Homo sapiens: one gene and its partners. The protein of the gene in region 1 purifies or fractionates together with the protein of each later gene. This does not show direct contact. Each region holds a gene or a part of one and is shown on either strand. Other genes may lie near its edges. The genes, in order: CBLN4, DHFR2, NRXN3 and NKIRAS1.

Region 1 (7,285 bases):
ACTTCTCACTGATGTCTTAGACACGTACCTTATTTGCCAATGGGGTGAGTGGAATAAACTATCTAGAAAAACTGTCCCAAACAATTTTCAAATTCTAAAACCAATTGAGAAGTATTTTTTACAGCATCCATCTATTTTTTTCCCACAATACCATCCTCATATGAAACAAGTCTGTCATTTGGCTGTCTCCAGAAGGAGCTATGAAGATTTACTCAACATGACTCTGGAACTTTCCAGACTATGTAAGTTCTCACATATTGGTTGTTCATGGAGACTTTTTCTTCTTCTTCTTTTTTTCTAATATACTTTAAGTTTTAGGGTACATGTGCACAACGCGCAGGTTTGTTACATATGTATACATGTGCCATGTTGGTGTGCTGCACCCATTAACTCGTCATTTAACAGGTATATCTCCTAATGCTATCCCTCCAACCTCCCCCCACCCCACAACAGTCCCTGGTGTGTGATGTTCCCCTTCCTGTGTCCATGTGTTCTCATTGTTCAATTCCCAGCTATGAGTGAGAACATGCGGTGTTTGGTTTTCTGTCCTTGAGAGAGTTTGCTGAGAATGATGGTTTCCAGCTTCATCCATGTCCCTACAAAGGACATGAACTCATCCTTTTTTATGGCTGCATAGTATTCCATGGTGTATATGTGCCACATTTTCTTAATCCAGTCTATCATTGATGGACATTTGGGTTGGTTCCAAGTCTTTGCTATTGTGAATAGTGCTGCAATAAACATACATGTGCATGTGTCTTTATAGCAGCATGATTTATAATCCTTTGGGTATATACCCAGTAATGGGATGGCTGGGTCAAATGGTATTTCTAGTTCTAGATCCCTGAGGAATTGCCACACTGACTTCCACAATAGTTGAACTAGTTTACAGTCCCACCAAGACTTTTTCTTCTTAAGCTACTTACTCTCCCTCAAAAAAGATCATTAGCTTGGGCTGATAACTATCATTATAAAGAGCAAAGGGTAATTAAGCAACTCAGTGGAACTTTGTCTGGGTATGATGCAAGCCTCACTGCTCTCTCTCTCTCGATTTTCCATCTTCTGCACGACTGACCTGCGGCTGTCTCTGCTGCATGATGCATGGAGTCTGCTTTCATTCAACCACAGTGAGGCCCTTAGAGCTGAATACCTTGTGTGTGTCTGTCTTTGCCTTCTCAGAAACATTTTCTTCACAGTCAGAAAATAGCTCATAGATCCTTACTGTCTTGGGCTTGCTTGAAACTTGGTTTCTCTAAAGGATGGCTGGACAAGCAGTCATTGAATTTACTGACCTCAGAAGTATTGCTTTCCTATGCAAGGATAGTTTAGATTCTAATTTACTTTAAAGTTAAGCCCAGCTGCAGAGAACTGAAATGCATTTCTGCGTCATCTCTAAAGGTCTAGGAGAAAAAAAAAATCCTAGGCATCAAATACAATATGGGAATCTCAGAAAGGGAAAATATTTGGGTCACTGCTAGGTCTTCTAATAGCATATTTTCAACTGGAAAAATACAAGAAAAAGAAAAAGAAAAACAGATCTATGCTGTGGTTGGAGAGAAACTTAAACTTGATCTTGTTTCTTTTCTCCTGGGGATGCTGGGGCTGAAGTAGGGGGTGAGGAACAGGTGATGCCTCCTTTCCCAAAATGTTGGAAAAGCATTTCCTACAGGCAGGAGATTGGATTTGTTAGTCTTTTGGCAAGAGATCCATAGCCTTTTGTGGTATGGTTTCTGGGACAATGTTCTAATGAGGATTCTGGATGACAGGGAGCGGTATGTTACTAAAACTAGCTCAAGGGAATTGGGTTTTTATTTCAAAGACATAGGAGGATACCAAGAAACCCAAGGTTAGGAGAAAATGTTTCTGGAACTCTTGTAAGCAAGAGTTCAGAACTGGCGATTGACTATTCACTCCCTGTACTTCTTAGAAGTGCTCATGCTCCAGAATTGGCTTCTTTCTACAAGTGTGGCCAGTCCTCTGGTTTATTCCAATACCTCTTCTGCTTCAGCTTGCAGATGACTCCTACATGGCCACGTCAGTTTGGGAGACTACAAACCTTGTCTCTGCCACATGTAGTGCTTACTGGAAGCTATTTTGATGTCTCATTAAGATTGCAGAGAGAAAATCTGGCAGCCCCAAGTCATCTGGCCAAGTTGGACCATACAAATCTTGGACTTCTGGTATCAAATGCATTGATGGTCCTAGAACCCAGGGGCTATCCGTGTTTAATCAACTGTTGTGGGAAAAAGAGTCAGGACCCTCTGATTCACAATATAAGATAACTTCTCTTAGCGGGGGTCCACAGAAAATGCTGTGTTCCTTATCTTCAGAACACTTTGAAGAGCAGAACATCCTTTAGTAAGGAACCGAGACCCTTATCCCCAATTATTAAGGAGGCTTTGAATTTAAATTTTACTGAGAGAGACTCATTTAAAGCAGTTTATACTATAATATGAGTGATAATTACCTTCTATTAGGAAGCATTCAGTCATTTCTCAATTATTGAGTCTTTACTATGGTCACTATGCAGATTTTGGGACTAAAAATGAATATTTTTGGTGAGAGAAAGAATAGGTTTCTTCAAATCTCAGTTCTTGCGTGCAGGAAGTGCCTGGAGAAGAAAAGGAGGTAGAGAGAATATATTGGAATTGGTGAGGAAGATAGCTTATTTTCTATTTAACAATTCAACACAGTTTTTTTTTTTTTTTTTTTTTTTTTTTTGTCAAACTTCTCCCAGCCTGAAATTGAACAACCAAAGTTCTAGTTATTGAACAGCTGTCCCAGACAAGGAAGGCAGGGTGCTTACCCCTACAGGAAATAAAAGGAACTAAATTCAACTCAGCACCCACCCTCAAAAGACTGCATCAAATGAGAAGAAATTGCTGCTGTTAACCAGGCAGACATCCCTAAAATCTGGAAGAGAGTTACAAAGTGCAGAGAGGGATCAGGTGAAGATTGTGCTGGGCTTAGGGTGGGGCATCAAAGCTGGGTAAATGGTGGCCATCTTCAGAAGGCACTAGTTCACCTTGTTTGGTTGTAGCTTAGATAGGTAACTTTCAACATTTTAACAAATAGCATGGTACTAGCACCTGCCAGCCGGAACTGACACCGGCCTGTAGTCTCAGCTACTGGGGAGGCTGAGGTAGTAGAATCGCTTGAGCCCAGTAGTTTTGCATCTAGCCTGGGCAATATAGCGAGACCACCCCCCACCACAAGTAAAATAAAATCATAAAGTCAAAACACCTGATACTGGCCCCACTGGAGCAGAATCTGAAGGCCCCTGTGGCACCAAGTATTAACACTTTAGTTGAGAGATTATAGGGAGGTGAGGGTTAGGGGATTCCTCGTAGTGTCTTCAATTTTAACAGTTGGAGCTGGTGCTTATAGCTCAATGCCCGGCCCTTCTGAAGGAAGGGAAAAAGGCTGGAGACGAGGTTCACCTTGTTTTGTGGAGGGCTCGAATGCCACGCTCATGAGGGCGTCCTTCACTCAGGAAGGAATGGGAGCCGTCCATCCCAAGGACCTCCCTCAATAAACATCCCTTCCATTCATAACTAGCCAATGCCATTTTAGGAGCTCCGAATGCCTGGAGGGGATACTGTTTTGGTTAAAGATACCATACGTGTCTGCCCTCTGGCAGCTGGAAGTGTAGAAGAAATTGGGGAAGGGGCGCCATGACCCCACAGCATCACAGAATTGGAAAGCTGGCGGGATGGGGGTGGGGAGGACCTTAGTTAACGCCGCGCCCCCCTCTCAGAGAGGGTTAGTGACTCGGCCAAGTTCACGCAGCCGGGTCCAGACAGAGACAAACCTCCCTTCCCCGTGGTAGCTGCAGAAGAGGAAGGGAACTCTTGCAAATCAGAGGCCAAGATAGCAGTGGAGTGGCACGGGGGCGGAAAGCGCATCCAAAGGGGAGAAAAATGCTGTATTCCTAGGAGTGGGATTGTCTTTTATTTTTATTTTTATTTTTATTTTTTTATTGTTGTTGGCACGGTTTCGGAGGACTTATTCTTGCTGAGTTAACTCCCTCTCCCACTCTTTTTTTTGGCCATGCCTGGGGAGGATTCGCGGTGTGGGGGGAAGGCGCGCCCCTGCGGCTTCTGAGGCTCATCTTCCCGGAGCGGAAGGAAGGAATCAGGCACCTCCTCCCAGCCGCCCCCACGGGCTCTGGTCCGCCCCAAGGCTTCCCTGAGCTCGCCAGGCCCCAGGGCTGTGTGGGGCGGGCTCCCGGCCAGGCGCGGTCGGGACGCCCGCCGGTCCCCAGGTTCGGGGCAGCGCGCAGCGCGGGTCCGCGGCGGCTTATCCTTTTTCGCGACCCGGCCTGGCAGCGCCGCGCTCCGCTTGGAGGGCACTCGGCGGCAGAGTTCCGCGCTGGGAGGGGTGAGGGGACCAGCCGCCTCCTCTGCGGACTCAGATCGAGCAGGAGAGAGTGGGCGCGGAGCTGGGGCCAGCGCAGGGCCGTGGGCTCCTCTCTGGGCACGCATCCTTTACGCCACGGGCTTTCAGGGGCTGAGGGGCCTCGAACCTTGCCAATCACCAGTGCTGTGCGCCCCGCTTGCTTTGGGGTGCGTTAAACGTCAGGAGAGAGCTGCTCAGATGGGGTCACCAGACGCCTTCTCCCCCTTTTCTCGGAGCCCGCGGGTTGCGCGATAAGCCAACCCAGCCGGACGCTGCGCTCCTATAAATAGAGCGCGTGTGCCCGCTTCGCGCTCTCCGGGCTGCACGAGGGACGAGAAAGTTGTGCGCAGGGACTGGGGGCGGGCGGCCAGGCAGGAGAGGACCCCGCCGGACCAGCCGCCCTGAACGCTGCGCCCGGCGCCCTGGACCTGATCCTGCGAATCCGCGCTTTCGGTGCGAGGGACCTGGCTAGCCGCTGCCTCCCTCCCTACCTCTGGGTGACACCAGGTTTGGGGGATTTTTTTGACCAGGCGAAAGTGGGAGTCGCTGGCGTCCTGGCCATGAACACAGCCTCGCGTTCTTCTCAGCCTGGGAAGGACCTTCTGCCTCTGTAACTCGTCCCTGCCGCAAGCCAGACAGGACTGGCACCCGCGCCGCTGGGCACCCGCCACCCTTGTGGCTTCTCTTTGAGTCCCCTCTTTTTGTTCCTGCTCCGTGGTTTAGCTGGTGGTGCTTGAGTTTGGGGTGAGAATTTATTATTATTATTATTTTTTGCCTTGAGGTGTGAATGTGAGGGTTTGATGACTTTCAGATGTCTAGGAACCAGAGTGGGTGCAGGGGCCCCAGGCAGGGCTGATTCTTGGGCGGAGGAGAGTAGGGTAAAGGGTGCTGCATGAGCTCCTTAAAGGACAAAGGTAACAGAGCCAGCGAGAGAGCTCGAGGGGAGACTTTGACTTCAAGCCACAGAATTGGTGGAAGTGTGCGCGCCGCCGCCGCCGTCGCTCCTGCAGCGCTGTCGACCTAGCCGCTAGCATCTTCCCGAGCACCGGGATCCCGGGGTAGGAGGCGACGCGGGCGAGCACCAGCGCCAGCCGGCTGCGGCTGCCCACACGGCTCACCATGGGCTCCGGGCGCCGGGCGCTGTCCGCGGTGCCGGCCGTGCTGCTGGTCCTCACGCTGCCGGGGCTGCCCGTCTGGGCACAGAACGACACGGAGCCCATCGTGCTGGAGGGCAAGTGTCTGGTGGTGTGCGACTCGAACCCGGCCACGGACTCCAAGGGCTCCTCTTCCTCCCCGCTGGGGATATCGGTCCGGGCGGCCAACTCCAAGGTCGCCTTCTCGGCGGTGCGGAGCACCAACCACGAGCCATCCGAGATGAGCAACAAGACGCGCATCATTTACTTCGATCAGGTCAGACCCGGGGGGAAGCGAGCACCTAGGGGGTGGGCGGTCTCCAGGCACCTCAGCACGAGGCTGCCTGCCCAGGCTAAGCTGGTCCGATTGGGAAATGGGGAATCATGTAAAGCACTCGCCTTCCCAAATATGCCTGGGTCTGAAACTTCTACCGTCCCTCTTCCTACCCCTCTCACCAGCCCCGGCTCCCATTTCTTCCGGGCCCCTAAAAGAGGCTGCTGCGGCGGCGGGGGAGAGGCTTGGGAGCCCAGAGCCCGGCAGCGAGAGCTCAGGGCAAGTTTCGAGCAACAGGTCGGCGGGAGCCGAAGGGCACCTGGTCCCTGGACGTCGTTATCTCTTGGCCAGATCTTGGTGCCCTTGCTCAGACTCCTCTGCGGGTGCCGCTGAGGCTGCTCCCTGGGTACCTTTGCGGAACAGGATAAATGTTTGATTTGTTTCTCCCAGGTAGAGAAGCTTCTCTCCCAAGAGAGCCCCGGGCTTCCACACTCTTCAGAGATCGGGCAGGTGGCCGCGGAGGGCGGGGGCAGAGCCGGGGGTCAGATCTCGCCTGCAGGTTCCACTGTTCGTGTGCCAGGCACCGCTGGCACTGCCGCTGCCTCGGAGTAGGCAGCAAGCCCTTCTCCGGTACTTAGAGAAAAGTTGCGGAGGAGGGGAGGAAAAGGAATTTGGCAACTGCGCTGAGCTCCTGTAGGAAAGCGCTTGGGAGCCAGTTCTCCCTTCCCGGGCTCATGTCCTTTCAGAGAATTGCAAATAGCTGGGGAAAGACAGACTTTGAGGTTGATGAGAGTAGGGGAAGAGCTGACGGAAGCTGTAGCTGCTGTTTAGCGACCTGGTGCTCCGTGTTTGGCTTGATGAGAAACCCCAGGATATCAGCTTACCTTTAGCAAGGGGTCTTAAGGGAGAAAACTGTCCTCAGAGTTTTTAATTTCAGCCCCAACAGTATCCAGAGTCTTTTTAAATTCCAAATTCACAGTTCACAGTTGTATGCAAAGCTGCAATGTGCAGGGGGCACAGGTTAAGTGGTGTTGCAGGATGTGCCAGGGAAAGCACGAGGTGACATCTGTATTCCTTGCTTAATTTTTCCTAACTAATGCACTCTCCAGCTGGCCAAAGACAGAGAATGCCTCTCTAGGGGCTTAGTATTTGATAGACATAATTTTTAAAGAATTAAGTAGCTCCATTTGGGGTTTTGGTGCAGTATTTTCCATCTTGATGGAAATAAAGTCTAGCACCACCCCTAGTTTGTATTTCAATGCTTTAATTAAATGTTGGAATACTGTGGGCATTGCACTATCCTCTATACAGGGTGTTCCTTTCAATGACCTTTCCATCAATTAGAAGAGGAAAAGGGTTTGTTCTTCTTTTCAGTGAGCCTTGCATCTTAGAGACAAGAACACACATTTGGTTATAAATCTCGATGTACCTGGATGCTCCAATTACAGTGTAGAGTCAACATCCAGTTTTATATGTAGCC
Region 2 (7,730 bases), on another chromosome or scaffold:
GCAGCAGTAGAGAATTTTTTTAAAAAGATCCAAATTAAAAGGGGGCAGGGTAGTTGAGTCTCAAAGACAACTCTCACTTCTGACACCAATTACAAGTTCAGGGATTCCAAGGATGACTCTCAGGTTTGATTATTCACTGGGACACAACCGAACTCACTGAAAGCTGTTATAATCACAGTTATAGTCACAGTTTATTATAATGAAAGCATACAGATTAAAAACAATCACAGGAAGAGACTCATAGTGCAGAATTCACAACAATTCAAAGCATGAAGCTTCCAGCTGTCCTCTCCAACGGAATCATCAACGAGGTCAACTTTTGCTGGCAGTAATGTATGACAGTATGCACAAGAGTATTGCCAACCAGGGACACTCACCAAAGCCTTGGTATCCACTTTTTATTGGGGCTTGGTCACGTATATATGATTGACTGTCCATACAGCTTTTAGTCACAAGCCCTTCTGGATGTTGAGTTGACACCTGTGGTCCCCAGGCCTCAACATAAATCACATCGTTAGATTATCAGGTGTGACCTCAACACCCAGGTAAACAAAGACACACTTATCAGGAAGCACATTCCAAGGGCTTAGAGATCGCCTCCCAGGAGCTGAGGGCAGTTGCCAGACCTATTTTTATATAAGGTTCATTTTTTACTACAAAGGTAGTGAAGGTATAGAGAAGAAAGGAGGAAACCAGACTGATGGTGATACACTTAATTGAGATAAAATATGCAGGTAGCAAAGGCAACATAAGTTTGAAAGGGAAAAATAATAATACACTTTTGAGTTTGCCAAGTAACTGAAGTTGCTAAAAAACAGAAGTATGGGACTAAATCTTAGGAAGAACCTCACAGCTTGAGATGACAGCATACTGATAAAAGTCATGCCATGAATGGGCTTACCTGAGGAGAACATGGAGGCAACAAATAGAGCAAGAATTGAACCAGGGTAAACTCCAATTTTAAAGGGCTGCTCAGAGGATGACTAGACAAGAAAGGTTACTAAAAAAGAGCAAAACTAAATACTAAATCTTCCTCACTACTACAGGAAACTAAAAATATTGAATAAATTACTTTCTAAATAGGCCAAAAAAAGAGCACTTGACTTTCCCTGGAAGTAGACTCTACAAGTACATTATGTCTTGCAAACAAGCAGTTAAAACACAAAATATTTCATTCTGTTCTTATTTCCCCATACCATCTTCCATGCTCAGACTACTTCCTAAGCTGAGAAACCTTTATTTTGCCTATGGCAAATTTAGTGTGTGTTTATGCAAAACTTAAATTACCACAAAAACCCCACAATAGGGTAAATGAAGCAGAAGGCACAGCTAATTAAATGGATTTGAGGTTCATTGCTCATTTTGCTCAGGGTCAAATAATAGTATATGACTTTCTGAGTACACTAAGTAGAAAAATAAGTCATTATAGGATATGAGTAGCCAGACTGCTACAAAGTCTACAGAAAAAAAAAAAGCCTCTTGAAATCTTTTTTTTTTTTAAATCACATCCCAGATATGAGACAGTACAGAACAAGGATGAGCTGTGGGAGTTATTGAGTCAGACAACCCAGGCACAAGCCTCAGCTCTGCCACTTATTAGCTGAGTGAACTTGGGCAAATTACTTAAACTCTTAACGGGTTTGTTCTGAGGATCATGTAAGTCAGTATTGTCTGGCATATAGTAAACATGCAATAAGTGTTTGGTTATTTGGATACTCTATTTGAGTACCTTTGTATACTGAAAACCTCATAAATTTATTACATACTTTATTATTCAGTTCTTCATCTCTGTGACAGAAAATACCCATTTGAAAATCTACTTTTGAAATAAAACCCACGAGTATAAACGGTTTGCATATTACAGCATTTACCAATTTCTATAACAGCTTAATTGTCCTAAAATTATCTCAGAATCACCTCAGACTTTGTGATCTTTATTAGCCAAAACTTAATTTGTTTTAGAAAATGCTCAGAACTGCCCTTTGTAAAGGAGAAATGCTTAAGAGTTGATCCAAGAAAAAAATGGACAAGCCAACCATCTGAAAAATTAGTCTGGACCAAGTTCCAGATAATATCTGTAGCCATGCAACTTTTTTTCCTCATGCAACATGTAGTGGGCTTTTGCCCTAACTTCATGAACAGTGCACCTTCTTCCCTCAACCTAGGAGGCCTAGTTCTTTTTGTCAAAGTAACTCCTCTAAGTCACCAAGACCCAGCTTCCCTTCAGGCCTTTGCTGGCACCCTCAGGCTTTGTTAGATACTTGGATCACAGTATTTACAAATTAGTTTATATAGTTGTAACCACACCCATCTCCTCACTTCTCCCATTAACACTAACTAGACGGCATGTAAACTGGACATGCAGACTGTCTTGCTCTGTATTCCAGAGAGGGTTATATAGTGTATCAGGCACTCAATGTCAAGAACCCATACAGTAATCCATACATTAACATCATCTTACCAAACAGACAAATCACATTTCTCCCACTTCCATGCATTAAACATTCCTTATTTTTATATTTAAATAATTTTGTGTGTATATGCACGTGTTCAAAATATACCCAGCCATCGACATAGGAAAGAAATATGATTACCAAATAAAGTGTACCTTTGGCTGAGATAAAGCAGTGCTGGCTTTAAAGATTTGTTGTATTATCTTCTAAATTTCAGAAATCAGTCAAATATTCCAAATTTTATGTTTTTTTCTTTTACAGTATAATTAATTTTGTCAAACTAGTGGGCATTCCTATTTCAAGGATCAAAGTAATTGCTCAAAGCAAAGGCGTAACAATTTGTGCTTACCATCCCGACAAAGTTTTATTTCCCCTTTCCAACATGCTATGATTCATTCTATTTCTTCTTAGTTGTTCCTTTCTATAGCTTCAGTAGGAAAAGGCAACCAGATTTAGATTCCTTTGCCTTTTAACCTCACAGCATCCCTCCCACAAAAAGGAGGACTACATATTGTACTTTGTTCCATCATAAAGCATCGAGATGAATTATACTAACCTTACTGTATTCCAGGCATCTCCGAGTTCTTTGGAATACTGTTTTTCAAAATGATCCAACACAACTTTGCAAATCTGTTTTGCAAGCTTCCCCTCTGATTTTGCTTTCAGCTATGACGATAAGAAAAAGTTGCTGACACACAGTGATATTACAAATTTACTGAACGTCAACATTAGCAAGGTCTTTTTTTAAGACAAGAACACTTTTTTTGGATAATTACTAGTTCTTGAAATGGAAGCAATACCTTACATGTACCAAAACTGTACATTATCTAATTATGAAAAAGCAAGGTTTTTCCAAATAATTATTTTCCAAATGTGAAGCAAAGGTTAAAACAGAATCTACTGGGGCTGAAGAAACTGTCAAAAGGAACAAAATTAATTTTAAAAAGTCACTGTAGGGGCTAGGCAGGTGGCTCACACCTGTAATCCCAGCACTGTGGGAGGCAGAGGCGGGAGGATCACATGAGGTCTGGAGTTCAAGACCAGGTTGGCCAACACGGGAAACCCGTCTCTACTAAAAATACAAAAATTAGCCGAGAGTAGTGGTGGGCGCCTGTAACCCCACCTACTCAGGGGGCTGAGGTGGGAGAATCGCTTGAACTCAGGAGGTGGAGGTTGCAGTGAGCCGAGATCGCGCCACTGTACTCCAGCTGGCTCATGCTTTGCAGGGACGAGGCGAGAGGATCATTTCCCAGTTCAAGACCAGACTGGAAAACATATCAAGGACGTGTCTCTACAAAAAGTAAAAAAAAAAAAAAAATTAGCCAGGCGTAGTGGCCTGCTCCTGTAGTCCTAGCTACTAGGGAGGCTGAGGCTGGAGGATCGCTTGAACCCAGGAGTTCAAGGTTACAGTGAGCTATGATGGAGCAGCTGCATTCCAGATTGGGTGACAGAGCAAGAACTTGTATCTAAACAAAACTAAAAAGTCACCGGGGATGCTGACATCAAGAAAAATTGGTGAAAGGTATTTGAGAACTCTGTACTATCTTTGCAACGTTATTTTAAAGTGAAAAGTTAATTTAGGGAGAAAAGTCACTCCAATTTCATCGTGAACTTCCTTGCAATTGTTTCATTTATTCATCCAAGAAACGTGTATTCAATGCCTACTATGTAACAGACACTGTTCTAAGCTCCCGGGATACCGCTGTGACACAGAAAACAAATCTCAGCCCTCCAAGAGCTGGAGGGAGTGGGTACTAGAAGTCTGCGAGCTGGACGGAAGGGACTCAGCATTACAGCACTCAGCATTATTTCAGGGCTTGACAGTAAAGCCAAAGAAACGCTGATCTCGCGAGGGGACGAACAAAGGTGATGTTCCCCCATCCCAGCACCCTCCCTCGCCACCTCGGCCGCGTCCAGAAGCGTCTCATTCAGATAGAGGTACCCAGCCGGGCCCCAGGTCTCACCTGGGTCAGCATTGTCCCGCTGAGAGCTTTCAAACAACAGGTGTACGCGAATCAGTATCAAAAAGCCTCCAGGGAACTGAAAAAAACAGTCTGACTTCCGGGATTCGCGGGCATCCACTTTCATTCTCACGTTTCCTCTTCAATTTCTCGCGAGATACTGATTTGCTCGCGCTATAGAATTCTTGTCGAAGAGGCTTAGCTCCCGCGGGAGATTTCGTGCGCAGTTACTTCCGGTAGCTGGTAAAGGCTGATACTTCCCAGGACGCGGAGGTAACGGGCCAGGGCCAAAGCGACTTTCGCTACTTGGATTGGTCGGCGTAGCTTTGGGCGGCCGGACCTTAGAAAGTCACACATCTGCGCGCCTGTGCGGCCCCTGCTTCTGCGGATGCTGAGGTGGGAGGATCGCTTGGGCAGAAGTTTGAGGTTGCAGTGACCCGTGATCGCGCCACTGCACTGCAGCGTGGGCGACAGAGCGAGGCTTTGTCTCAAAAATAAATAAAAAGTCGCATATTGTGCTGAACAGTGTGTATATGCATGGGGCTCAATAAAGGAATGAGTTTTGGGGTTATGTTGTATGATGACTGATTTAAAATATTCTCAAAGCGAAGCTAGTTACTGACTTAATCTACCAAATCTAGTGACCCCTGTTAACCTAGACATTCAGTACCCAAGGATAAAAGGGTGGAATATAATGAAAAAGAAATTAAGTCATGCTTTTCCCCAGACCTGGCCCATGGGGATAATCTCTCCTTTTAATGGAGAGTGTTAAACTGAAGTAGGCATGTAAAGCGGTTACAACAGTGATTAGGAAACAGTAAATGCCCAAATGTTAGCTGCTATTATTTTCACTATTGTGATCATTGTGATTTTTGTCGCGTTGATACCAAATGCGTGAAGACCAAAAGGACCCTCCACTCTAGCCTCCCCAATTCACCTTTACAAGGGAGCAATGTTTAATGGTTCTCCAAGGAAGATGTTTATTACACCTATTTTGACACGAATAGAAGTTTATTTGCTCTTTTGGTGTCATGCTTCAGTAACTATCATTTGTAGCAGCAATCAGCAATTAGAAAAAACCGGTTTGATATGGTCCCTGATAGTTAATAATCATCATTTTGAGTTGTTCCTTGATGCTCATATCAATATACGTACATGCTATAGGTACAAGTCTTATATTCATGTAAAAACATGTCTTTCCTTCTAATCTGATTTGAAGCTTAATATATTTATTTATTTAAACAAGTTTCCAAGTCACCTAAAAAATGCATCTTATTAGAATTTAGATTTGGTACAAAAGACTATGATAATCAGGAATGAAATGATGCCATCTCTTGGATGCCGTCTGTTTAATGTTTGTGGAAAAGTCGGTCTAACCTTTCAGCCTCTGTATTTTTTATAATTTTATAAATTTATATTTTATAAATATTTTATAAATTTATACTTTATAAATATATTTTATATAATTTATTTTTCTATGTTCATTCCAGAATGTTGCAATTAATTAATACAGTGGTATTGTATTTGCAATGTAGGCACGTAAAAAAATTTGAAGAAGGGAATTTCGCGGCATTCTTGGCCTGGCTTCCTGGCGTAGCCAGCAAGTTCGGAGGTGTTAACCGCTGCTGTCATGTTTCTTTTGCTAAACTGCATCGTCGCTGTGTCCCAAAACATGGGCATCGGCAAGAACGGGGACCTGCCCAGGCCGCCGCTCAGGAATGAATTCAGGTATTTCCAGAGAATGACCACAACTTCTTCAGTAGAGGGTAAACAGAATCTGGTGATTATGGGTAGGAAGACCTGGTTCTCCATTCCTGAGAAGAATCGACCTTTAAAGGATAGAATTAATTTAGTTCTCAGCAGAGAACTCAAGGAACCTCCACAAGGAGCTCATTTTCTTGCCAGAAGTTTGGATGATGCCTTAAAACTTACTGAACGACCAGAATTAGCAAATAAAGTAGACATGATTTGGATAGTTGGTGGCAGTTCTGTTTATAAGGAAGCCATGAATCACCTAGGCCATCTTAAACTATTTGTGACAAGGATCATGCAGGACTTTGAAAGTGACACGTTTTTTTCAGAAATTGACTTGGAGAAATATAAACTTCTGCCTGAATACCCAGGTGTTCTCTCTGATGTCCAGGAGGGGAAACACATCAAGTACAAATTTGAAGTATGTGAGAAGGATGATTAATATGAAGGTGTTTTCTGGTTTAAGTTGTTCCCCCTCCCTCTGAGAAAAGTATGCATTTTTACATTAGAAAAGGGACTTTTGTTGACTTCAGATCTATGGATAATTATTTCTAAGCAACGTGTTTTTATTCCTCACTAATCTTGGCTATATCAGATACCATTTATGAAACATTCTTGCTATAACTGTCTCTCCAAGACCCCGACTGAGTCCCCAGCACCTGCTACAGTGAGCTGCCATTCCACACCCATCACATGTGGCACTCTTGCCACTCCTTGACATTGTCAGGCTTTTCTAATGTTGGTAGTATTTATTAAAGATGAAGATGCACATACCCTTCAGCTGAGCAGTTTCACTAGTAGGAAATACCAAAAGCTTCGTACATGTATATCCAGAGGTTTGTAGACAAATGTTGCAGCCTTTTTTGTAACAGTGAAAAACTGAAAACAACCTGGAAGTCCAGTGATGGGAAAATGAATATATTTCTGTCTTAGATTGGGGAACCCAAAGCAGATTCCAAGACTGAAATTTAAGTGAAAGCAGTTTATTTGCTAGGTCATACCAGAAGTCATCAATCGAAGTATGGAGAAATGGAACTGAGAAGGTAAAAACCAGTTCAAAATCAGTGAGGAGGTTCTCAATGGTAACGAGCTCCATACTGCTGAGATACAGGGAAACGGAGGGGAGAAAGCTAGAGTATTTAACCCCCACTCCTTGGTTGTCAGCTCCCTGTCCTGTGTGTGGGCAGAACGTACTCCACCTACTCAATAGCAAGTTCCAGGTGTTTGCTGAAAGAAGCTGCTGTAATGTACGGGAACGGTGAATGCCAAACACTTAAAGCAATTCCATGTTTAAGTATGTAAACTCTTCATACTTTTTTTTTTTTTTCTTTTTAAGACAGAATTTCACTCTTGTTGCCCAGGCGGAGTGCAATGGAACAACCTTGGCTCACGGCAACTTCAGCCTTCCCAGGTTCAAGCAATTCTCCTGCCTCAGGCTCCTGGGTGGCTGGGACTACAGGCGCGTGCCACCACGCCAGGCTAATTTTGTATTTTTGGTGGGGACATTCCATGTTGGTCAGGCTAGTCTCGAACTCCTGACCTCAGGTGATCCTCCTGCCTCGGC
Region 3 (7,257 bases), on another chromosome or scaffold:
GATTCTGGTCTTAGTTCTTAGTTATAAAACCTCATCCCCTACTTGTTTACTGTTCTATGTAAAAGAAATGATAAATTAAGAAATTTGTTCTGTTTCCTGTGGTCCTCATACTACCTAATGCTCAAAGGCCTTCTTGGGGGTCTCATGCTCTACACAAGAGATTCAGAATAAAAATGATGCCTTTTTGCAGTGTCTCCAGTGTTTTGTGCTCTCCCTTTACCTCCCCACCATCTTACACAGAACCCTAAAATGCTCCTGGGATCTCTTGCAAGGGCTTATTCACAGTGGTACAAACTTCCAATGACAGTAATTTATGCCTTAACCCATTTTGGGCCATTTTTCCTGGCCACTTAGGCTAATTATCCAAGTCATTTGTGTACAATCAACAAGGACTTTCTTCCCTCAGCACTCACCCTCCACTTCATCCCACCCAGCGGGGTAGGCATAATGCTCAGTGGGTAACCGTTGTAATTATCTCCATGGCAATAGAGTGCAGTGCTATTAGGCTCATGGGACTCACCATAGATTCAGATGGTGGAGCCATCAAGCCACAATATCCGGCTTTGAACAATCAACCATACTCAGAGGAAGGTCGGAGCTCTCTGTAATGCATGTGATGAGTAATGCCAAACTGCACATAGAGCTGTAGATAGGGATAGGGACATTTTCCCCAACTCGTTATGTAATTTCTTTTTGCTGATGCTCTTACTGCTTCTCTTAAAACTCTCTTAAGTGAGGTCATTCTCCCTTTATATTATACATTTTAGTACCCTTTTATAAAGCTTAGACCTCCTTTTAATCCAATACTATAGCTTTATTTATTTACACCTTAATTTTTGTATTCTGTATACCTGTACTACCAATACAGTAGCCATTGACATGTGTATTGAGCACTTTAAATGCATGTAGCCCCTGGGTTGAGGTGTGCTGCAAGTATAAAATACAAACTCAAGTTTAGAGGCTTAATGTGAAAAAAAGTGCAAAATATTGATAATTTTATCTCTATTACATTCTGAAATAATATTTTGGGTATATTTAGTTAAATTGAATAAAATACAAAATTAAAATAAATTTGACCTGTTACTTTATACCTTTTTAAAATGTAGCTACTAGGAAATTTATAATTGCATGTGTTACATATATCTATTGGAAAACACTGACATAGAGTTAATGGATGATTCCTGTTAACTTTTAAATCTGAAGAACTGATGGCATAATAAAAATTCTGTAACATTTGACCAGTATCTTACGCTTTCTAATATGTGCTCTTATATTGTGATTTGACTTCATATGATTAATTATTCCAGGATAAATGGAATTACTGCCATTCTACAATCTTCTAAACACTATATACAATTTAATTCCAAATGCTACGTCTATTCCAGGATTGCCCTTTAATACACAAAAGAACTAAAAGCAAGCCAAGGAGACAAAAATCCCTGATTGAATGAAATTGTTCATTTCTAGGAGCAAAGTGGCTGCTTTAAGGGCTTAGTGATTCCCAACCTCCTGTCCCTTTATACACACACACACACACACACACACACACACACACACACACACTACATAGTACAAACACCATATTTGGCCAAGACAATTTAAGAAATATTTCTGGATAAAGGAAAAATGGAGTGGGTTATAGGAATGAACATTCCTATTACTAGTGCAAAATACAAAAATAACTCTTAGGCAAAGGGAAACAATTTCCATAACTCCAAGTCAGCCTGATAAGCTGACAGGAAGCTTTTATAAATGTGTGCTTTACGATGATGAGCTAACCCAGATGGAAGCTGTTTAAGAACAGAAGCGATACATGAAGTTGAACACAGAAGTGGAATGAACAGATTTGATGTGGTAAATTAACAACTGATACAAGGAAACACAATATATTGCGCAAACACAGGACCATAAGGCTCAACCAAAAGGCTCAAAAAGAAAAAAAGGAAATAATTACATAGATCCTTGGTCAGGCAACTTCTTTGCCTTTCAAGTTAGGTAACAGTCACGTTTTCAGCCAACCCAAGACTACTAGGGAAGGCTGAATGTGTTCACTTCTGCCATCTGCTGGTTAAAACTAGATTGTTTACACTGCAAAGAATTGTTGGATTCAGGAAGACCTGTAAAATTCATTTAGTATCTCAAGAGACAGTGGATCATCTACAGGAACAGGCTGAGCATGGTTTGTTGTGCTGCATGGGTAGACATGCAGTATTATTAGATGTTTGACATAAAATAATATTTGTAAACAATAAGCCTACCATTTATCGAGTACCTACTACATACCAGGCATTTTATGTGTATTTCTGATCTCCTTACATTCAAGGTAAGTTTTATTGCCCTGTTTTATAGGTAAGAAAGATATAGCTTACAGAAGTTACATCACCTTCCAAATGTCACATAGCTAACAAGAGCTACTACCTGGAGCTGAATCCAGGTATTTCTAATATCAAAGCCCATAATGTTCCAATATACCACACTAAAGAACTGCCTAGCAATGCCTGATAATTAGTAAGTACTTAGTAAATGTTAGTTCCCTTCCATCATCATGGCATTTGGACATCGTTTTCCTATTGCCTGCTAGATTTGCATTAAATAATGCAGTCACTATCAGCCAAAATAAGAAACATTTTATTAATTAGTGACATCTACATAAAATCTCTGGTTTTCCCCTCATCATGTATTAAAGTATAAATAAAAGTCTCCAGTGCTGTTTCAGCCATTCTGGAAGCCAAGGTACACATTGAAAGAAGCCTGATGTCAATGCCAGGGAAGTTTTTTATTTTATTTTATTTTTATTGGCAAGTATGTGATACTCAGAAAACATCTGCCAACATACATTCCTGGAGCCTGTGGCACATGTCTTGACATACTAAACCAGTGACAAGAGAACACTGATGGTGATGCAATGTCACGTGGCAAATGAGAATGAGACAGGACTGGTCAACTGAGGAAGGAGGCAGTGGCAGAGGCAGCAAAGAGGCTTGGTGCTTGCAACAAGGCTGTAGCTTAACAAGAAAAAAATAGGTTGTACCTTCACAGCCACGCTCGATCTGTCCGCTCCGATGAAGAGCATCATTGATGAGGTCTGGCAGGCGTCCATTCAAGTCCACTGATGCTAGACAGCCCTGAAAGCCATCTCGAGAGGCCACGAGCTTTGGGAGGTTGCTGTACATGCCTTGGGCCAGACCAGCCATATAGAGATCACCTGGAAAGGAAAGTAATTAGCAAAAGAGAATGAGTAAAGGATGTGGTGACCATGTCAACTAGTTTGATACACTTGAGATAATTCATCAGATAAGGAATAAGATAGCTGGGGGGGGGGGGGGGGGACAGCATAAATGAGATAAGCACCTGAGTTTCTACCCTGCAAAAAAAGGAAACCAATATTTATTATGTGTCATTCATTTTATATATACCATCTCAAAAATTTATTCATCATAGATGGAGTAAAGATTAACAATATTGTCAACAAAGCAAGCATTTATTGAGTGCTTTTTATGTGCTTGTTACCAATAATATGCTGAGGGATATACAGACATGCCATCAAAACTTCTCACGACCTATACAGAAACTAACAATTATTATCCTCATTTTGCAAAGAAAAGTAAATGTAAGCTGAACAAGGCTAAGACAGTTTACTGATGACACCAGACATTAAATGATTCAGCTGAAATTCCAAAGCCTATATTCCTTCCTCTGTATTACGGCCCTTCCCACACTTTGACACTCATCCTGTCATCTCTCAGCCCCCACAGCATGACATTCCCGAGGTTATCAGAGAAAATGAACCATTTCTTGATGAGTAGTCTAAGTAAAAACGGAAAAAATTGCATTACAGGATAATTCAACATTGTTAAAACAGGATATGGATGATGTATCAAAAATGCATGGCACTCTGAACCTGTGGTTTGCCTCTGGAAATAGTCTATCTATTGTAAGAAAAGCTCTATTAAAAACTAAATTTCTTTACAAGGTTTACCTTTCAAATCCAGATTTTTGGCACCATTGATAACCTGAGTGACCACTTTGGTGTCCACTTTCAGGCTATGAGTGTTACTATTGTCCCGAGTGATGACGACATTGTGCCACTGGTTGTCATTCAGGGGGCGGTCACTGTTGCCTTTGATCACATTGGGACCGTTTCCGAGGTCAAAAACGTAGTGTATATACCTAGGAAGAAAAAAAAAAAAAAACAATAATTGGAAAATCCCCGAAGTGGTTTAATGGCTATATGTGTGTAACTGACATAGTGGGCTTCAAATCCCCCATGCTAAACTGGCATAATGCAGGAATAATTTAAATCTTGATATGAGGTTACAAGAATAGTCAGATTTTATTCTATCATGCTTCACTATAATTCCATACTCATCGAGTCCACTTCATTAACACTACCTACTAATACTCTCCAGAGTCAAAGTAGCACAGGTTGTACACTACAAAACATAAGGGGGTGACTTTTAAATTCATCATCAACCATTAATCTGTTTTGGTTTTTGTTTTGGTTTTTTGTTTTGACTATTTTCTAATACATGGTAGTAAAATGTCTTGAGGAAAGGGCAGCTTCTAAAAACTTGCATATATGGGCTAATGGTAGGATTTAAAATATTTATGTTTCATCTTTTGGTATAAATTGGGTGGTTGTAGTTAGTAATACTCAAGAATTAGATGCAATACAAATCATAGCCCTCTTTTGCAAAAATAAGCTTTTCTTCAATAGTTTTAAAGGGCTACATTTCATAGGAAAAAGTCTGTTAGTGTTGAGTTAGTGGAAGACCTTTAAATTAAATCATGAGCCTCTCTCCTTTCCAGACCTAATAATTTTATGGATCCATTTAATCAAGGAAGATGCGAGAATGTGTCAGGAATGGAGGGTAGGGAGTAGAATAGACAAGTTATTTTTATGTCCATATTTTACGTAGAGCTTCAGTAGATTAAAGGTGTCCAACATAAGTCGTGATCCCTTCTACTTACCCCTTGACAAGCTCGACTGCAATGAAGTCATTGCCATCACCACTATTGAAGAGAATGAAGCCATCTGGTGAGGTGGTCTTGAACTGGAAGAAGAGGTGCATGGAGGTGTAAGCCTGAAGAGTGGCAAGGCTCAGGTAGCTGCTCTTGGTCTTAAAGGTGACAGGGTCAGCGATGATGTTCCTCAGTCCAAAACGAGCCTTCAGCTCACAATAATCAATGTCACCATTTTTGCACAAGTCAATGTAGAGAAGGCCATTAAACATGAGGCTCTGCAGATGGCCAATAAAGCTGGAGGGGACAACGGAGATGTAGCGTTTCTCAGTCATGATTCCCGTTTCAATGTTGTGGAACTCCAAACGGGTATGGTCTCCCACCATTGTACCTGTGAAAATTGTAAATGAGGTACAAACAGAAAAGTTACCATCATTTATCACAGCACCCTCAAGTATATTTTTTGGGTGTAACCTGTTTCCACACAGAATATTCAGCTTTCTTGGGTGAGTTCAAGAAAACCAAATATTCAATATGGTAGATACCTTACTTGGCCTCAATCAGGCATTGCCCAAATTACATGCTGTCACGCAGCTGCTCAGCACGGCTCATCATATAAGGGGAAATATGAGGTCATGAGTAACCCAGGCTAAAGGATAAAACTATTGATATTCTCCATTCAGGAGAATCACTGGACACTAATACACACTATAAGAAGAAAGGCCTTTGTTGCTCTGACCCTTGTAAAGACACAACACACAAGTCTTGGGCATCACTACCAAGTATTTTTTCTCGTAATAACTCTCCACTTAGTACTCGTGGGAAGGATTCTATTATAGACTTATCAGTTGAGTTTACCTGCCCAGCAACTGTTACTTTATCTTATAATAACACGTAATTTTTCTTTAGGAAGCTACCCACCCCTCTTGACCTTTCAACCACCTGGACTGGATAAAGTTGACCCTAATCAAGCTACTCAGCCTAGACCACTCAATGTACTTTACCCCCCTAACTGTCACAGACTTTGGACTACAGACTTAAAAAGCGGTCATTACACTTTAGGGTGTATCAGAATCACCTGGGGGGCTTAGGCCCTCAGAGTTTAGAATTCAAAAGTCTGGGGTGAGGCCTGAGAATCTGCATTTCTAACAAGTTTCACAGTGATGCTCTTGTGGCTGATTTAGGGACCACCCTTAGAACTGGCAACAACCCAAGCCATCCCGGCCACACTCAGTTCCAGAGCTCTTGCTGGTACACTTAGGAAAGAGGATTCTTTGCAAGCAAGGACTGCTGGAGGGGTAAGAAGAAAGCTTTGAGTCCCTAGAGGCTATAAGAAAATCAGAGGGATCAGAGGACTAGCAACCCAGAAGACAATTACCAAATGAAGAGAATCATCTGTGCTGTCCTTTGAGACTCTGGATCAAGCCAGGCACCTCCCGGCTTTTTCAAACTGTGTGGCAATAGACTCCCTTTCATGCTTAAAGCGTTTGAGTTGGGTTTCTGACATTCACAACGGAAATATCTTCAGCTGTTACAAATGAACTATTTAGAACTTGTATTACCTATTTTACCTAGAAGTGGTGAGTGACTAGGGCAGAGGGGATAAGGAGGGCTTGAAAAAAAAATACAAAGAGACTGGAAATTTTAATAACAAAATAAAGAAAAACATCATTAATGTGGCCAGAGTAGAAATTGGCTTCCTCAACATTTATATAGAAAAATCATGTTAAAACATAACAAACCATGTTCTACTGCCAAGCATTAGAGGGGGAATTCTTTCTTCCTGTCCTCTCTTGTTACCTTCTACATTGAAAAAACTCCATTAGCAAGACTGATAGCATCTCTTTATTTCCTCTTTAACAACTTTCCTGAAGAAGTGACATAATCAGAAATATTAAGGATGATCTGCAAAGAGAAGCTGTGTATGCTTAGCTCAGCCCCTAACACCTCCTGTTTCTCTTTGCTGGAGCAAGCTGCCTTCAGAAATGTCCATTCTACTGCATGCATCCATAGAATGGGTGTTACAGGAGCAAGCCTTGCTTCCACAAAGGATGTCTGCCCAGTTCTGAACTACTATTCAAGTGGGCAGTTCTGTCTAATTCTGAAGTTCAGTGGGTGTAAGCAATATTATTGTGTGTTATTACTAATTAAAATGATATTTGCCTTCCATCCTCATTGCAATATTTTCTCTATTGGCTCAGAATTACAGTGACAAAAAAAGGGAGGATTGTATTTTCTTAGGTCTCTTAAACTTCAGTATCTGGGAGACTAAACCAGATCATACCCTTAAGTGCT
Region 4 (7,257 bases), on another chromosome or scaffold:
TGAGAATCTCTTGAACCCGGGAGGCAGAGTTTATCGTGAGCCAAGATCACGCCACTGCACTCCAGCCTGGGCAACAGAGCGAGACTGTATCAAAACAAAACAAAACAAAACAAAAACCTGCTTTAAAAAATAAAGGTTATTTTAAAATGTATAAGAGGTTACCATTATTTAAATTTGAAAAGAAGAATGTAAGTGAAAAATAGCCACTGCAAAGGATATAAGACACTCTCTTTGATGATAATGCCTATAAAATAAAATCTGTGTCTCCCAGACTGGAGTATAGTGATGCCATCTCACCTCACTGCAGCCTCCACCTCCTGGGTTCAAGTGATTCTCCATCTCAAAAAAAAAAAAAAAATCATAAGGAAGAAAAAATATATTTACTATTTATTAACTGGAAGTGGTTCATCGTAAAGGTCTTCATCCTCATTGTTTTTATGTGGAGTAGACTGAGGAGAAGGAGGAGGGATTGGTCTTGCTGTGTCAGGTGGCAGAGGAGAAAGAAAATCTACATGTAAGACATGTGAAGTTCAAATCTGTGTTGTTTAAGGGTCAGTGGTATTCTCAGCAGAGCAGTATAGTATACTGTGATTCTTTTTTTTGTTTTGTTTTCATGGAAGCCAACATGTATTTGTCATTTCTTTAGTTTTGTTTATACCTTTTGCTAGTTCTTTCCACATAGTCCAGATGTTTCTCAGTTCTGCATGAGGTCAGCTCCATCAGATAATCTATTTTTTTTCTTGGCTGTGTCCTTTCAGGAGCTCTGTGTCCTCTTATCTACTGTGCCACCATCATCATGGAACTTCCCCTTTGTTTCTCCCTTTGGTTTTTTTTTTTTTTTTTTTTGAGACGGAGTCTCGCTCTGTCACCCAGGGTGGAGTGCAGTGGCACGATCTCGGCTCACTGCAACCTCCACCTCCTAGGTTCAAGTGATTCTCCTGCCTCAGCCTCCCAAGTAGCTGGGATTACGGTCATGCGCCATCATGCCTGGCTAATTTTTGTGTTTTTAGTAGAGACAGGGTTTCACCATGTTGCTCCAGCTGGTCTTGAACTCCTGGCCTCAAGCAATCTGCCTGCCTCAGCCTCCCAAAATGTTGGGATTATAGGCATGAGCCACTGCACCCGGCCTCTCCCTGGTTTTGATTTCCTGTTTCCTAGATCTCTTGTCTTCTTTTCTTCTTTTGGCTTATACCTTTTTTTTTTTTTTTTGGAGCACATTTTCCAGTACTTTTCTGGGGTTGAAAAGGTTGTACAGTAGAACAGAACATCCAGTGATGATGGCCTTCAACATGCCCTCTACCTGGGACGTAGTCGTGACCCTGGGGCTTCCGAATTGAGATATTTACTAATTGTGCTTGTGATTTCCTTTACTTCATATCTGTGTTAGGTTCTGTTTCTTCCTGTTTCTATGATTACATATTAGTTTTTATGGAGGGTCTCCTCAAATAGTTTTCTGAGAAAATATACGTGATACATTTTCTGAGGCTTTGCATGTTTGAAACTGTCTTTATTTTACACTAACATTTGAATTGTAATTTTGATGGGTATGGAACTCTAGGTCAAAAATAATATACTTTCGGAATTTTGAAAGCATTGCATATATGGTTTAATAATTATAAGACAAACCTTCACATAATCTCCACATGGATCAAAAAGTACAACATTGAGGACAGGCCAGTGGCTCCCTGTGTTCCTCTGTCCAGTTGCAACTCATTCCTTCCCTTGACTTTTGGTTAATCATTCTTTTTATTTTTAATTGCCACATATGTGTGTCACTAAATGGTCTAGTTTATTTTTTGCCCTATGGATTTTCTATGAATTAAATTAATCCATGTCTGGCTTCTTTTACTCAACATTATATTTGTAAGACACATCAGGCCAGGCATGGTGGCTCACCACTGGAATCCCAGCACTTTGGGAGGCCGAGGTGGGAAGATCACTTGAGCCCCAGAGTTTGAGATCAGCCTGGGCAACATCAGGAGACCCCATCTCTATTTAGAAAAAAAAATAAAAGATTCATCCATTTTGCCGTAGCTGTGGTTGTTTACTTTTCATTGATGTAACATTCTATTGCATGAAACTACCTCTGTCTGTTAGGTCTTCATGAACATTTGGGTTATTTTCCAGTTTGGAGCTATTGGAAATAATGCTACTCTGGAACATTATTGTACATGTATCCTGGCTATTATGTGATAAATTCTGGTATACATATCTAGAAATTGCTGATTCATAGAAGGTGTGTCTCTTTAACTTTATCAGCTTCTATTGTCTTCTTGCTTCTAGTGCTACTTTTGAGAATCTGGGAACCATTATGATTCTTGATGCTTTGTCTGTGGAAACTTTTTTAGGCTCTCTTCTTTGTTCTTAGTTGCTGTGGTTTGAAGGATAGTGTCTCCTCCAAAATTCATGTTGAAACTTAATCTCCAATGTAACAGTATTAAGCACTGTGGCCTATAAGAGGTGATTAAATCATGAGGGCTCCACCCTTCACCTTCATGAGGACTAATCCCTCATGAAAGATTAGCATCCTTATAAAAGGGCTTGAGGTTGAAGGGAGTGCTCTCTTGCCCTTCTGTCTCTCCCACCATGTGAGGACACAGCATTTGACCCCTCCCAAGGATGCAGCAACAAGGCTCCATCTTGCAGTAGGGACTGTGCCATAACAACACACCAGACCTACTGGCACCTTGATCTTGGACTTCCCAGCCTCCAGAACTGTGAGAAAGAAATTTTCTATTTATAAATTACCCAGTCTGTGGTATTTTGTTATAGAAGCACAAATGGACTAAGACACCAGTGTTCTGAAATTTCAGTGATGCGTCATAGAATTGATCTTTTCTTTTCTTTCTTTTTCTTTTTTTACTCGGGTTGGAGTGCAGTGGCACGATCTCAGCTCACTGCAGCCTCCGCATCCTGAGTTCAGGCAATTCTCCCACTTCAGCCTCCCAAGTAGCTGCAATTACAGGTGCGCACCACCGTGCCCAGCTAATTTTTGTATTTTTAGTAGAGATGGGGTTTCACCATGTTGGCTAGGCTGGTCTTGAACTCCTGACCTCAGGTGATCCGCCCACCTTGGCCTCCCAAAGTGCTGGTATTACAGGTGTGAGCCCCCGAGCCTGGCCAGTCTGTTTTCATTTACTGTATTGGACACTTAGAGGGCCCCTTCTATATGGAAATGCATGTTCTTCAGTTTTGAATTATTTTGTTATTGCTTTCTTTCCTCTGTGTTCTCTGTCCTTGTTTTCTGGAACTCTCTTTTTGGATGCTGGACCTTCTGGACTAGTCCTTGAATTTTCTTATTGCCCCTTTCCTGTTTATCATCTCTCAATATTTTTGTACCACTTTTTGGTAGATATTCTTATCTTTATTTTCCAGCCCTTCTATTGAGTTTTTGTTAGTATCCTGTTCTTATTTCATGGATGTACTATCTTATTTTTTTGATAGATTAGGTAGTTTTTTGTTTGTTTGTTTTTGTTTTCTTTTCTTTGTATAGTTGGTTTCTCTGTAGCGGTCTCTTCTTGTTGGTCTCTATTTTCTTCAGGTGTCTGCTAAACCTTGGTTATCTGTTCATAATTAAAAATGGACCCCTAGGCCCAGTGCAGTGGCTCATGCCTGTAATCCTAGCACTTTGGGAGGCAGAAGCAGGCAGATTGCTTGAGCTCAGGAGTTCAAGACCAGCCTGGGCAACATGGTGAAACCCCATCTATACAAAAAAATACAAGAATTAGTGGGGCTTGGTGGTATGTACCTGTAGTCCCAGCTACTTGAAGGGCTGAGGTGGGAGGATCGCTTGAGCCCAGGAGGTTGAGGCTGCAATGAGCTGAGATTGTCCCACTGAACTTCAGCCCAGATGACAAAGTGAGACCCTGTCTCAAAAATAAATAAATACAACTTAAAAAGCCAATTGGAAGCTCTAAGCATATGGATAGGGTTCATGACTTAGAGCTTCACTAAAGTGATCTGGCAGGGGCATTTATTGGGGAAACCTAGATGTCAGTATATTTAGGATTTTTTCCTTTTCCGTTGGCCAGATTCTCCAGATTCCCCTGGATGGGGATAAAGAGCTGGCTGCCAGTGTTTTGGGAGCAGAAAGGGAAAGCCGGAGGACTTCAACATTCAGTATGTGTGTGTGCGCAGGCATGTCACTTAATTGCCCTGTTTTCATGGTGGAACTCATTCCCTTTATCCCACAGTCTAGACAGCCTCTATTTTATACTCCCCAGAGATTGCACCCTTAAGCCTTCCCCTGGTGTGCGAGATGGGTAGTTGCCCAGCAGCGTGGAGTGGGAGAGGAAATCTAGAGAACTAGTGGAAGACTCTTGACTTCATTTGATCTTTAGAGTACCAAAATATCAAAAGGTCTAAACTTTAGACCCCCTTTTGGAGAGGCAGGTGGAGGTGGGCTAACCGGACTGGCTTTTGGTGGATAAAAAAATCACATGACAAAATGCTTGGTAGTTTTTGCTTTTAAATTAATTTGTAATCAAAGCCCAATACGTTTGTGTCTTAATAGATAACCTTTAATTTCCTTAGGGCTTAATTTATGACAGGATGACACAGACAGGTATATACATAATCAGATTTATGAATAATTTTACCTTTCTAAACACTGAATACATTCCTTATGAGTTATGTTGATGAAAGTAAATTTTTGGTTTCTCAATGATCCAATCTATGTATTACCATGTGATTATTCCTTTTAATCTAATACTTGTGGAGATTTTATGTAATCTAATACTTAACGGACATTTCATGTAAGGCATCTGGAACAAATCATTCTACAGTATTTAGGTTGTTTAGGAAAACTGTAACTAGTTTAAAAAAAACTATAACATAGTATGATTGGGGGGGGTATAGGATGTTATCCATGTGATTTTACCTCTGGATGTATCTCACATTCATTTATTTTTATTTTTTTATTATTATTTTTTGAGACGGAGTCTTGCTCTGTCATCCAAGCTGGAGTGCAGTGGCATGATCTCGGCTCACTGCAACCTCTGCCTCCCAGGTTCAAGCAATTCTCCCTGCCTCAACCTCCTGAGTAGCTGGGATAACAGGTGCCCGCCACCACACCCAGCGAATTTTTGTATTTTTAGTTGAGATGGGGTTTGGCCATGTTGGCCAGGCTGTTCTTGAACTCCTGACCTCAGGTGATCTGCCCACCTAGGCCTCCCAAAGTGCTGGGATTATAGGCGTGAGCCACCGTGCCTGGCCTCATATTTAAATATGGAGGTGGTTACTGGGACTATACCTTACCTGTCTTATCACATGTCTCTCCACTACTTATTAAAATTAAGAATGTTAATCTTCTCCCTTTAATTCCTTTATCAGTAAGGGCTTATTGAATATTTGCTGTGTACACAGAATGGTTCCTTTCACTTAATAAACTTAGAGACTAGTTGAAGAGATAAAACTTGCACAAATGAAACAAAGTGGTAAAATGCATTTTTAAAAGATCATAAACAAGAAGGGGATTTTTATTTTTATGCAGAAGAAATATTTTTTAAAAGAATTTTGTTTACGCCAGGTGCAGTGCCTCACACCCGTAATCCCAGCACTTTAGAGGCCAAAGTGGGTAGATTGCTTGAGCCCAGGAGTTCGAGACCAGCCTGGGCCACGTGGTGAAACCCTGTCTCTACAAAAAGTACAAGAATTCACTGGGCATGATGGCACCTGTAGTCCCAGCTGGGAGGGACTACTTGGGAGGCTGAGGTGGGAGGATCCCTTGAGCCCAGGTGGCGGAGGTTGTAGTGAGCTGAGATCGAGCCACTGCACTTCAGCCTGGGCAACAGAACAGGACCCTGTTTCAAAAAAAAAAAAAAAAAGTAAAATAGAAATGTGATTATTATATGTGGTAAATAAGAAACCTAGAAAGCCAATTTCTAAAGGACAAGAAAATACGGAGCAGTTGACACTGACTTAGCCAAAAAGAGTAATTTGTTTTCTTAATCCCAGGAATGGAAGATTGCGAAACAATGGAAGATGTATACATGGCTTCAGTAGAAACAGACCGAGGAGTAAAAGAACAGTTACATCTTTATGACACCAGAGGTCTACAGGAAGGCGTGGAGCTGCCAAAGCATTATTTTTCATTTGCTGATGGCTTCGTTCTTGTGTACAGTGTGAATAACCTTGAATCCTTTCAAAGAGTGGAGCTTCTGAAGAAAGAAATCGATAAGTTCAAAGACAAAAAAGAGGCAAGTGGATATGTTAAAAATGCCAAATGTGAATTATAATACCATTTAAATTATAGCACAGACTTTTGGGTAGTTTATTTTCAGATCATTACAGTATATTCTTAGTATCTGTAAAACCTTTACAATTTTTTTCTTTTCTTTTTCTTTTTCTTTTTTTTTTTTTTTTGAGACGGAGTCTCGCTCTGTCTCCCAGGCAAGAGTTGAAAGTGCAATGATGCGATCTTGGCTCACTGCAACCTCCGCCTCCCGGGTACAAGCGATTCTCCTGCCTCAGCCTCCCAAGTAGCTGGGAATACAGGAGTGTGCCACTATGCCCGGCTAATTTTTATATTTTTAGTGGAGACAGGGTATTACCGCGTTGGCCAGGCTGGTCTTGAACTCCTAACCTCAAGTGCTTTGCCGGCCTTGGCCTCCCAAAGTGCTGGGATTACACGTGTGAGCCGCTCTGCCTGGCCTAGAATTTTTTTCTTAACCCAAGAAATACAGGTCTGACTGAATTTAGTTAGGACCAGAATTTGACTTTCTGCCTTTTGCTTGTTACCATCTACAAGTTGAATTTTAATGACTTCTTATCTCAAGTACTACATAATTCATTTTATGTTCTTTGGTATTGCTGTTTCCTTGGGTTTTTGTTTTTGTTTTTTTTGAGACTGAGTCTCTCTCTTTCACCCAGGCTGGAGTGCAGTGGCACGATCTTGGCTCACTGCAACCTCCAACTCCCAGGTTCAAGGGATTCTGCTGCCTCAGCCTCCTGAGTAGCTGGGACTACAGGCGTGTGCTACCAGGCCCAGTAATTTTTTGTATTTTTAGTAGAAACAGGGTTTCACCGTGTTAGCCAGGATGGTCTCGATCTCCTGACTTTGTGATCCGCCTGCTTCGGCCTCCCAAAGTGCTGAGATTACAGGCATGAGCCACCATGCCTGCCCTCCTTGGGCTTTTTATTATCTCCTTGGGTACATAGGATTCTTGTCTTCAGGCTTACCAAAAAAAGAAACCTAATAATTATTGGATTCTACCCATATACCACTTAAACATAAGATTCATATGCCTTACAGTGGTC

Evidence for each region.
Region 2: the proteins of CBLN4 (region 1) and DHFR2 purify together in Homo sapiens (affinity purification with mass spectrometry; 2 studies listed by BioGRID and IntAct, with this or other methods). This does not show direct contact.
Region 3: the proteins of CBLN4 (region 1) and NRXN3 purify together in Homo sapiens (affinity purification with mass spectrometry; 2 studies listed by BioGRID and IntAct, with this or other methods). This does not show direct contact.
Region 4: the proteins of CBLN4 (region 1) and NKIRAS1 purify together in Homo sapiens (affinity purification with mass spectrometry; 2 studies listed by BioGRID and IntAct, with this or other methods). This does not show direct contact.

What each region holds. Positions count from the first base shown.
Region 1 is NC_000020.11:56,002,404-56,009,688, reverse strand, and holds the start of CBLN4 (cerebellin-4 precursor), read left to right. Parts: upstream 1-4,169; 5' UTR 4,170-5,517; coding exon 5,518-5,808; intron 5,809-7,285. UniProt on the Homo sapiens protein: Acts as a synaptic organizer in specific subsets of neurons in the brain. Essential for the formation and maintenance of inhibitory GABAergic synapses.
Region 2 is NC_000003.12:94,059,826-94,067,555, reverse strand, and holds the start of DHFR2 (dihydrofolate reductase 2, mitochondrial), read left to right. Parts: upstream 1-4,639; 5' UTR 4,640-4,810; intron 4,811-5,949; 5' UTR 5,950-6,044; coding exon 6,045-6,608; 3' UTR 6,609-7,730. Other genes in the region: NSUN3 (tRNA (cytosine(34)-C(5))-methyltransferase, mitochondrial), read right to left, coding at 3,010-3,119, 4,418-4,429. UniProt on the Homo sapiens protein: Key enzyme in folate metabolism. Contributes to the de novo mitochondrial thymidylate biosynthesis pathway. Required to prevent uracil accumulation in mtDNA. Binds its own mRNA and that of DHFR.
Region 3 is NC_000014.9:78,964,121-78,971,377, reverse strand, and holds part of NRXN3 (neurexin 3), read right to left. Parts: intron 5,354-7,257; coding exon 4,972-5,353; intron 4,171-4,971; coding exon 3,980-4,170; intron 3,206-3,979; coding exon 3,032-3,205; intron 1-3,031. UniProt on the Homo sapiens protein: Neuronal cell surface protein that may be involved in cell recognition and cell adhesion. May mediate intracellular signaling. Functions as part of a trans-synaptic complex by binding to cerebellins and postsynaptic GRID1.
Region 4 is NC_000003.12:23,899,748-23,907,004, reverse strand, and holds part of NKIRAS1 (NF-kappa-B inhibitor-interacting Ras-like protein 1), read left to right. Parts: intron 1-5,527; exon of another isoform or gene 5,528-5,644; intron 5,645-5,931; exon of another isoform or gene 5,932-5,955; coding exon 5,956-6,197; intron 6,198-7,257. UniProt on the Homo sapiens protein: Atypical Ras-like protein that acts as a potent regulator of NF-kappa-B activity by preventing the degradation of NF-kappa-B inhibitor beta (NFKBIB) by most signals, explaining why NFKBIB is more resistant to degradation.